Regions from separate parts of the Homo sapiens genome. Here region 2 is linked to region 1. Evidence: fine-mapped expression QTL. A gene starts in region 1. The other region holds a variant in brackets. All regions are shown on one strand. Distances are from middle to middle.

Region 1 (5,532 bases):
GCTCTGCAGGATCTGAGATCCAAAATGGCAGTCGAGCTATCAACTCACCAGAGCCATAATGCTTCCCATACGTGAAGCCAGGTCTTATTTATCTCACCTTTTAATTATCCAGGGGAAAAGAATATTTATAAAAAACATTTCAAAGAATCAAATGGCATTCATTGTATCATTCTCTGTTCTGCCTAAGACAGCAGGTACCCTGCTCTGGTTCCTCCTCTCTGCAAACTGAATTAACCTGCCATTCATATGTTTACACAGCCACAAAAACAAGATAATGGCAAAACATGGAAAGCCTAGGTTTTATCTCCTCTTCAGTAAGACCAACTTTAGGAAATAGGTGTAAAATGAATCATATAACAAGCAAAGCCCCAAAAAAGTGCTTTCATTTTCAGAAAAACAGCAACAAAAATCAGAGCTGATTTTCCTTTAGGTCTACCACAATGCAACATTCTCTATCACTAAGGTAATTTCTCTATCTTTTCCCTTTAAATTCAAGCCGTAAAAAAATTTAGAGACAACTTTGTTCCAGACTACCTCTTTAATGTAATGTTTCCAATCCTTCTTACACAAAAGCTGAATTTATATCATCAAAAAATTTACAGTGAATCTAAACAGTCACTTCTGTATTTATTACCATTACTAACATAACAACATTAATTTTTTAAAATAATAAAATCCTTGCTTGTTAGAGACAGAGGGCTTTAATTATCTTATGTATTCAAATGGAAAGTCTTTTTGTTAAATTAGCGTGAAAGTCCCTTCATCTACACACAATTGGCCCAAAGAAACAGGCCATTTTCAGCACAAGAGGCCAATCCATTTTAAGAGTGAATAAAGCTTTTGAAAGCACCACACACCCTCTTCCAGACTGTCAAATTTTCAAAATGGTCCAGCATTTTTTCCACTTTATCTTTTTTAACACTTTCAGGCCCAGTAAGCATCTCATAATTAGATTAATTAAAAAGGAAACAACAAAAAACACTGCTCCCTTCTGATCAAAATTATTCCATTTATGCTTAATTAGCTTTAATCCACGTCTACATATTTAATGATGGGGATATGACAATTCAACCCATTTGCATATTTTAAATGCCTTTTCTAAACTATACTTTGTAACAGATTTAGAAGAACAGTCTCTTTCTCATGCCAATATGCCACAGCATAAATCAGGAGGATACAAATTAGGAAAAAAAGAGAAAAGAAAACAAGGCCTCTCAGAGCCAGGGATGTGCTCAGGGGGGTGGAGTAATTTACCCAGGGGTGGGGGCAATTTACCCGCCACATCACAAACTACAATCCTTTCAGCCCACCAGACCGAGAAGCATTACATCACACTCTCACAATGATAGGGGGAGGAGGCTCTGAGAAAGCAAGTTTTCAGCTTTCTTTCCTCCCTGCTCTCAGGCTTCCAGAATCCTGCATTAGGAGTAATGGAATTTAACTTCAGGCACTGCACAGCTTCAGGGGTTACTAACAATCACATAGACTGCTACTTATACATGTGACCCTAAATGACCACTTCGCAGTGGATACATGGCCGAAACAGGCAACCACACACTCACACGATGAATTTATGCTGAAAAACTCAGTTTTGCATCTGTGTAAAATTAAACAAAAATTTTATTTCGTGAGGAATGAAGAAGGCTAATACACAGGGAGAACTGATAAAGAAATAATTTCTAATCGCGGTGAATAGCTGTTCATATCTTTAAAACACCATGTTTACAACATAGTCCTACCCTTTGGTTGAATCCAGGATCAAAATAAAAGCGCATCTGGCTGCACATTTGAGAACACACACAGAGACCCAGTGCAAATGAGCGCGCGCAGAAAGGAGAGGGGTGAGCCACATATTGCTTGGGAGGTTTTCAAGCAGGGGAATCTACAAACCCCAAACCTCCTGGTGTTCACCCGCCCCCAACCTGATGTTTAAAATGTATTAGGTCTTACTTTAGGTTTTACATCTCTCTAGGAAGGAGGGCCCAGTTTAAAAAATAAAAAGATAGAAAAAGGCTTTCCCGTTCTAGGGCTTGCCCTCCCAGATCCTTTGTCGGCCTTAGCAGCCGAAAGAATGCAAACCCATTTATATTTATGCAAATTTTTGCAGCAGATTTAAGGGGGGAGGGGGAGGTCTGTGTTTTTTAAAAACCTCTTTCTAAATAGCAAATTTCCAATTACTCGCAGCTTCATTTATTGCAAGATAGAAACGATGATGAAAATCTGCATATACATTAAAAGTGCAATTAAATCACTTCAAAATCTAAATATTTTACCACGTCTTTTCCATTTCTAAAATGCCGAACCAAAGTACATCACGGGTCTGATTTACACAGATCCACGAAATGTCTGAAGCCAGTCTCCATGCTAGACAAATGTCGATTTGCAACACCACCAGTGAAAACGGTTAGACAAGATCCATATAAATCAATTGGTTAAAAAAAATTGAAAATATTTACCAACCTCATAAAGTGCAGCAGTGCTTAAATCCAGCAAATTGAGGCATACAAGGTAGAAATGGAAATGAAAAAAGGTCCAAAAAATGAATTCTTTTTGTCTATCTGTTTTTTTGTATTTTAAATATTCAGAAACCAGCAGAGACTCTGTCGGCCATTTTGGCTTGAACTAACTCTCTCTCACACACTCTCCCTCTTGCTCTCTCTCTCCCTCTCTGTCTCTAAAGGAAGCAGCTTTTTGTGACCTTCAAATAGAGGCAGATCATGTGACTTCGGGTAGGTTTGTCAATCAGGAAAGGGGAGGGAGCTGGAGCTGAGACTGCCTTAAAGGGGAAGCAGCCCTTTTCCACTCACTTTCATTTGTGAAATGCTGTTATCTCATACTCTCCGCCTACAGACACTGCATGTGAAAGTGGCAACAGCATAAGGGTAACAGATGAACAAAACAGAAAAACCTTTATTGGTTTATAGAAATATGCTCAGTTGCTAACGATTCTTACAGCTCCTGGATCTTCTCCTGGCTCGCTTGCTAGTTATTCTCTAGATGTTTGGGCAAGCACAGGCTGGCAAACTGCTCTGTAAAAGGGGCTGAAACACAGCTCTACCAAACAAGAGGCTTTAGCTTTGAAAGAATGAGGTGAAATACAGGGCACGACTGATCTCTAAGAAACTCCTAAAATGTATAGAAAAAGACTGAAAGAAACGCACAAAAGTATAAACTGAACTGCAATTCAGAAAGGTTAAGTGACTTATCCCAAATCACACAGCTGAACAGCTGCAGAAGAGGGACTGGTTTCCCAATTCTGAACTCTACACTTATTGTTTTGCCTGTATGTGTGTTCAGTACCTCCTCCCCCAAACCCAAATAAAAACTATGCTTCAGCACTGCAAACGGAGTTTCTCTGGGCTAGGGCAGGTCTGAGTCATCTTTAATCCCCTCCCCCACCGCAGGAGGTAGCTCTGCAGCTGAGGGAGCCTAGGCACTAAATTAAAACCTACCTGGTTTCCACCACTCCTAATCCCTTCTCCTTCGCATATACATCTCCACTCCTACCCACTTAAGAAACCCAAGCTCGGTTTGCATCTCCAGCCCCCGCGGCTCACAGGCCGTGTAACTTCACTGCTAACAGCAAGTAAGTAAGTCCCTTACCCATCCTCCCACCCTGCCTGGCCTCCGTTTTCTCATTGGTAGCCGGCGGAGATTGGGCTTCCCTAGATGGTATCTTTGGTTTCTTTCACCTCTGAAACTCTGCACTTGGCTTCTTTGAGTAGTTCTGTTCATCTTTTCCTGGCCATCTCAAAAGTTCGCCTCCACCCTGGGAAGGCTTCTTGACCCTCGCAGTCCAGACCAGGCCCTCCTGTTAACACTCCCATAATATCCTTTACTACTTCTTCAGAGCAATGGTCATAATTGCAATTTATGAAAGAATGTGCTTAACATTAGTCTTCCCCAGGAGACTGTAAACTGTATAAGGAAAAACACCACGTCTTCACTGCTCTGTGAGGCTCCACACCAAACACCACATAGGAGGTAAATAAATGAATAAATCAATGACTTGGACCCTATTCAGAAGGGCTGGGCTGAGTAGGAGGAAATCTGCCACCTGAATATAAAAAATGTAGGGGAATGAGGGTCACATAGTTCCCAGAAACTCGCATTCATCTATGTTTTAAGGACGGCTTCAGGAAAGAAAGTAACTAAAATGGTAAAAAGCGCATGAGGCCGGGTGCGGTGGCTCATACCTGTAATCCCAGCACTTTGGGAGGCCGAGGCAGGCAGATCACCTGAGGTCGGGAGTTCGAGACCAGCCTGACCAGCATGGAGAAACCCCGTCTCTACTAAAAATACAAAATTAGCCAGCGTGGTGGCACATGCCTGTAATCCCAGCTACTAGGGAGGCTGAGCTTAGCAGGAGAATCGCTTGAACCCGGGAGGCGGAGGTTGTGGTGAGCCGAGATCGCGCCATTGCACTCCAGACTGGGCAGCAAGAGTGAAACTCCATCTCAAAAAAAAAAAAAAAAAAAGTGCATGAGAATGCCCTGTGACTATCGACTCCACCTATCTCTATAAGCCAGAAAAGGGAGGATTCCCTAGTGTGCTTCTCCCATAAACTAGGCTGCCATGCCAGCCAGCAGACAACTGATGGATTCTAGAAACCCGGCTTTCCTTGAAAAGGAACCTACGAATGCTTGTAAAATCCCACAACACTTGTTGTCATCCTGGCTTCTGGGTCTTTATACAGTCTCCCGCCTTTGCTCTTTCCACTCAGATATGACGACAGGAAAGGAGCTGTTTCATGGCAGGCAAAGGCCAATGCCTGGACAATCTGGTAGCCTGAATAGCTGTGGCTTAACAAGCTTCCACTGTCTTTGCCTAGCACTGAGTGAAATAGCCAGGCCCTGCACTGACAATTGAGATGCAGGAAAAAGCAGGAAACTACTAGAATGGAAATTCTGATTATTTAGTCTATTTTTATCCTTCCAATACCTTCCAGATGAGTTACTGAAAGCCTACTTGCTTGTAGCTGGCTCGATTTGTAAAAATGTGTGGAGACTGAACATCCACCTTGTTTTAATTTGTGATGGACATGCTTTCTTTATGAAACTGAACTTTGCTAAGTCTCCATTCCCCAGTGTAGAATATTATTGTATACAAATATTTATATGTGTTGCCTTGTAAGTGTTAAATAGCAAACTGCATGAAAAGTTTGGAAACAGAACAAACATATTTTAAATAAAATATTGGTTCTAATTTCAAATAATATGCTGAAAACATATATATATATATTTTGAGACAGAGTCTTGCTCTGTCACCCAGGCTGGAGTGCAGTGGCATGGTATCGGCTCACAGGAACCTCCACCTCCTGGGTTCAAGCGATTCTCCTGTCTCAGCCTCCTGAGTAGCTGGGATTACAGACACATGCCACCATGCCCAGATAATTTTTGTATTTTTAATAGAGACAGGGTTTCACCATGTTGGCCAGGCTGGTCTCGAACTCCTGACCTCGTGATCTGCCCACGTCAGCCTCCCAAAGTGCTGAGATTACAGGCATGAGGCACTGCGCCCGGCCACTGAATA
Region 2 (5,000 bases), 210 kb before region 1:
GGCTCACATTTGTGATCCCAGCACTCTGGGAGGCCAAGGCAGATGGATTGCTTGAGTGCAGGAGTTCAAGACCAGCCTGGGCAACATGGCAAAACCCTGTCTCTACTAAAAATAGAAAAACAAAAAAAACAAAAAAAAAAACAAAAAATTAGCCGGGCATGGTGGCGTGCGCCTGTAGTCCCAGCTACCTGGGAAGTTGAGATAGGAGAATCGCCTGGGCCCGGGAGGTCGACGCTGCAGTGGGCTGAGGTTGCACCACTGCACTCCAGCCTGGGCAACCAGAGTGAGACCCGGTCTTCAAGAAAAAAAAAAGTTGTTCCTCTGCTCTTTCTGCTCATGTTCCTCCTGGACAAAGTTAGGGAACAAGCCACATGCTATTTATCTTCACGGTTGCTCAGCAACCTTCATTCATCTCTAGTTGACTTTTCATCATATTTCCTTCAGCGATACTTTCAAATCATTCTCATAATTCTTCTGAAACCCAACTACTCTCTGCTGCCACTCACCCCCAGCTGAGGGACTGTACTCCAGCTTTAACGAAGCTCAGCTTATTAGACTTAAGCTTCCTCAACTTCCTTATTCTCCGTGTCAAAACGGCTTTTCACCTGTTTGCTCTTTCTGCCCGCCCTCTCAGAAGAGAAAGTGGTTTTCTTCCTTCCTACGTTAAATTCTCCACCCACGAGAACCTTTCAACCCATTTCCTTTATACTCTTTTCCTTTGTGCATCTTCAGTCTTTTCTTCTCCAATGGCTTCGTGTCCACTGCAAATACTTAGATCTCCTGAACCCTGAATTAAACAAAACAAAACAAAGCAACTATCCCTGTACCCACTCAAGCTGTTACCTTTCTAGCTCTTATCCCTCTGCCTCACTGCCATACTTTTTAAAAGCGCCCATGCTTCATCAATCAACTCACTCCTTAAGCTTTTCACCCTAGCTTCTGTCACCACCTAAACTGGTTTCTAAGGTCTCCAGTGATTTCCTAGTCATTATTTGGAATCCAGTTCCTATGGCTTCATTTCCTGAAACTCCCTGAAGCATCAGACTCTGCTGACTTACTTTGGTTTCTTGAACTGTTCAATGACTCTGAGGGCACAGACCATATTGTTTTTTCTTCTCTATTTAACTGCTTCTTTACTGCCTCTTCTTTCTCCAGACCCCCAAAAAAGACATTCCCCACATCAGTCTTCTTTCTTTTAGTCCATTCCTAATGGATTCCAAATGGGGAGTCCATCCCTATTCTGAATGGGGATTTAGCTATTACTGTCATATAAATTACAAATCTCTATCTCTAGCCATGACAACATAGATTATTTCCAACTTATTGTTGGATAGCTTCATTTGACTATATACCACAACACATTAAAATATGTATTTCTTTTTTTTTGAGGTGGAGTCTTGCTCTGTCGCCCAGGCTGGAGTGCAATGGCGCTATCTCAGCTTACTGCAAACTCCGCCTCCCAGATCCATGCCCATTCTCCCGCCTTAGCCTCCTGAGTAGCTGGGACTACAGGCGCCCGCCACCATGCCCAGCTAATTTTTTGTATTTTTAGTAGAGACAGGGTTTCACCGTGTTAGCCAGGATGGTCTCGATCTCCTGACCTCGTGATCCGCCCACCTTGGCCTTCCAAAGTGCTGGGATTACAGGCGTGAGCCACCGCACCTGGCCAATATGTATTTCTTTTTAATTTTTTTTTAATTTTTGTTTATTTATTGGAGATGGGGGTCTCCCTATGTTATCCAGACTGGAATACAGCTGCACACCACTGTGCCTGGCTTAAAATCTGTGTTTCCTGAATAAATCTATTTTTATTCTATCTCAGATGATTCTTTTTAATATTCCTGTTTCTTCTCCCAAGACATTCAGATCCTAAGGTTTAGGGTAATTTTTGGCTCCTTTTTTTTTGTCGTTGTTGTTGTTGTTAGAGACAGGGTTTTGTTCTGTTGCCCAAATTGAGTGCAGTGGTGGGATCATGACTCACTGCAGCCTTGACTTCCCAGGCTCAAGCAATCATCTCTCCTCAGCCTCCTGAGTAGCTAGGACTACGGGCGCATGCCATCATGACTTGCTAATTTTTATTTTTAGAGACAAGGTCCTACTATCTTGCCCAGGAAGGTCTTGAACTCCTGCACTCAAGCAATCCTCCCACTTTGGCCTCCCAAAGTGTTAGGATTACAGGCATGAGCCATGATGCCTGGCCTTGGCTCCTGCTTTTACTCTCATATCAAATCAGTTGCAAGTCTACTGATTTTACCTCTAAAATACCTCTAGCATCTCCATCTCCATTTCCACTGCCTTAATCCAGACCCTCCCTGCCACTTTTCTGGGCCACTGTCAAAATCTCCTAAAGATTTCTGTGTCTCCAGATTATCATTCCGTTTATGTTAAACAAAGAGTAGGTTAATATCCCCTGAAGCACAGCTCTGATTCCATAGACCCCAATCTCTTTTTGAGTCAGCTCTTATTTTCCCTTCATGTACCCTAAGCTTTAGCCAACTGGGCCCCTCACTACTGTCTCAACATGCCTCTGTGCCTTTATTTATATTGTGTCCTCTGCTAAGAAGGCCACCTTCCATTTCCAAATATCCAGATTCCATCCCTCTTTCAGTGCTTAGCTCTGAAACACCACTTCTGTGAAGCTTTCCTTAGTACTTCCTCTCAACATTTACTTGTTCCTACTGACTTTTTTTTTTTTTTTTTGAGACAGAGTCTCGCTCTGTCGCCAAGGGTGGAGTGCAGTGGCGTGATCTCGGCTCACTGCGAGCTCCACCTCCCAGGTTCACGCCATTCTCCTGCCTTAGCCTCCCGAGTAGCTGGGAATACAGGCACCTGCCACCACGCCGGGCTAATTTTTTATATTTTTAGTAGAGATGGGGTTTCACCGTGTTGGCCAGGATGGTCTTGATCTCCTGACCTCGTGATCTGCCCGCCTCGGCCTCCCAAAGTGCTGGGATTACAGGTGTGAGCCACTGC[A/G]CCCGGCCGTTCCTACTGACTTCTATCTCACTTTACTAGTGTAGGTGCCTTATCTATAAACTGAAAGCTCTTCAAGGGCTGAATCCTCATTAGCACCTACTACAGTACTTAGGGATTTAATAAATGTTTGAAGTAGTAATCGCCTGTTTCATGAGATATTTAATTACCTGTTTTATGACCTACACAAATAAACCTTCCATAGTATTTCAGGACTTTCTGAAGAAATCTACCTTCACCTTTATACAGTGTTACTGTGGAAGCAAGAAGGCCTGGGCCTGACAACTTGTTCTGCCACTTGGCTGTGTGGCCAATTCATCTTCCCTAACCTCAGCTTCCCTATCAGTAAAATTAGGATAATAGGTACCTGCAGAATAAGTGAAAAAGTTCTTAAAACCCCTATCACATGCTTGGCATGGAGATCCTATTTTCCAAAAATGGGCTAACACAATATAACGTATCTCACACATGCTCTTCTTCAAATGTGACGAAACTTCTCCCATTGAATGGTGGGGTCTACGTCCCATCCACTCCCCGTGAACCCAGGCAAACCTCTGTGACTCCCTTAACCAAGAGAATATGGTGATATTGTGTAGCTTCTGAGGTTATGTCATAAAAATGTCATGCATTTTCACCTTGTTCCCTTGGGAGGTTAGCTCTTAGAACACACCTGCCATGCTGTGAGGTAGGTAAGGTAACATGGAGAGGTCACATATAGGTGCTCCGGCCAACAGTCCCAGGTGGGACCCAGCTGACAGCCACCATCAACCCCAAGACATCTAAGGAAACTTTAGACATGACTCCAGTCCCACCTAGCTGCAACTGCTTGAGATACCCCAGGAAAAACTACCTACCAACAACCAATCCCCCAGCAAGAGATAGTAATAAAATGATTATTGTTGCTTTAAGCTGCTAAATTCTGGAGTGATCAGTAAACAGCAATAGATAAATGGAAGAACTGGTGCTATGTTGTAGCTGTTAACATAATGCCATTTTAAATTTCAGTCTCCTCTCAACTCTTACTTTTTCAGATTGATGAGTCCTAAACTTATCCTGACCTCACATGGCAGGCACCACTCTTATTCTCTCATTTCACATCATGAGTGCTTACTCTGTGTCACACCCTAGGCTAGATCCTAGACAGGACAGTGAACAAAACAAAATCCTGTCTCTGTGGAGCTTTTATTCTGATCTGATAGAAAGACAAATCTGTAATATAAAATAAGAATTATTATTTGAGACAGCGTCTGACTTTGTCTGCCAGGCTGGAGTGCAGTGGCGCGAATCTTGGCTCACTGCAACTTCTGCCTCCTGGGCTCAAACCATCCTTCCACCCCAGCCTCCTGAGTAGCTGGGACTAAGGCATATACCACCATGCCTGGCTAGTTTTTTGTATATATTTTTGGTAAAGACAGGGTTTTGCCATGTTGCTCAGGCCAGTCTTGAACTCTTGGCCTCAAGGAATCCTCCCACCTTGGCCTCCCAAAGTGCTGGTATTACTGGTGTGAACCACTACGCCCGGCCCCAAGAATTATTAACTTACAACAAATTGCACAATAGTTTACATACATGTTGGGGAGTAATAAAGGGCTCTCATGCTTATTTATCATTTGTTCTTTTCCAGAAACTAAAGGACTCCAGTTATTTAGCTTCTAGATTTACCTTTTAAATTTGGAGTAATAATATAATACTTCAGTTTGTATTTCCAGTTCCTAAATGCACTATCTTGCATCGTTAAAATGCCTTGTAGCCGGGCATGGTGGCTCATTCCTCTTATCCCAGCACTTTGGAAGGCCAAGGCAGAAGGATCACTTGAGCCCAAGAGTTTGAGACCAGCCTCGGCAACATAGTGAGGCTTCATCACTACAAAAAATTTAAAAAATTAGCTGAGTGTGGTGGTGCACACCTGTAGTCCCAGCTACTTGGGAGGCTCAGGTGGGAGGACTGCCTGAGCCCTGGAGGTGGAGGTTGCAATGAGCCAAAATCATACCACTTCACTCCAACCTGGGCAACAGAATGAGGCCCTGTCT

Direction of the effects. Alleles are on the strand shown, and positions count from the first base shown. SD is a standard deviation of normalised expression in the study named.
For the expression in fibroblasts of the gene that starts at base 2,676 in region 1, A is the low allele of the variant in region 2 and G is the other (small effect, 0.34 SD a copy in GTEx).

The links. PIP is the estimated chance that this variant, and not a neighbour inherited with it, causes the effect. A credible set is the group of variants that fine-mapping cannot tell apart.
Region 2: its variant is the best candidate, but not a certain one, in a credible set for the expression of TNRC6B in fibroblasts (GTEx, PIP 0.70).

Annotation. Positions count from the first base shown.
Region 1 is chr22:40,175,069-40,180,600 of GRCh38, reverse strand. It overlaps TNRC6B (trinucleotide repeat containing adaptor 6B), which reads right to left and starts at 2,676. Exons shown (of 23, transcript NM_001162501.2): 1 at 2,461-2,676. The coding sequence starts at 2,465. RefSeq lists an enhancer at 2,788-2,837.
Region 2 is chr22:40,381,167-40,386,166 of GRCh38, reverse strand. All of the region lies in intron 1 of SGSM3 (small G protein signaling modulator 3), which reads right to left. It also overlaps a transcript of ADSL not described here. Among named protein-coding and RNA genes, the nearest start is that of SGSM3, 13 kb to the right of the region's middle. The variant A/G (reference allele first, on the strand shown) is at 2,974.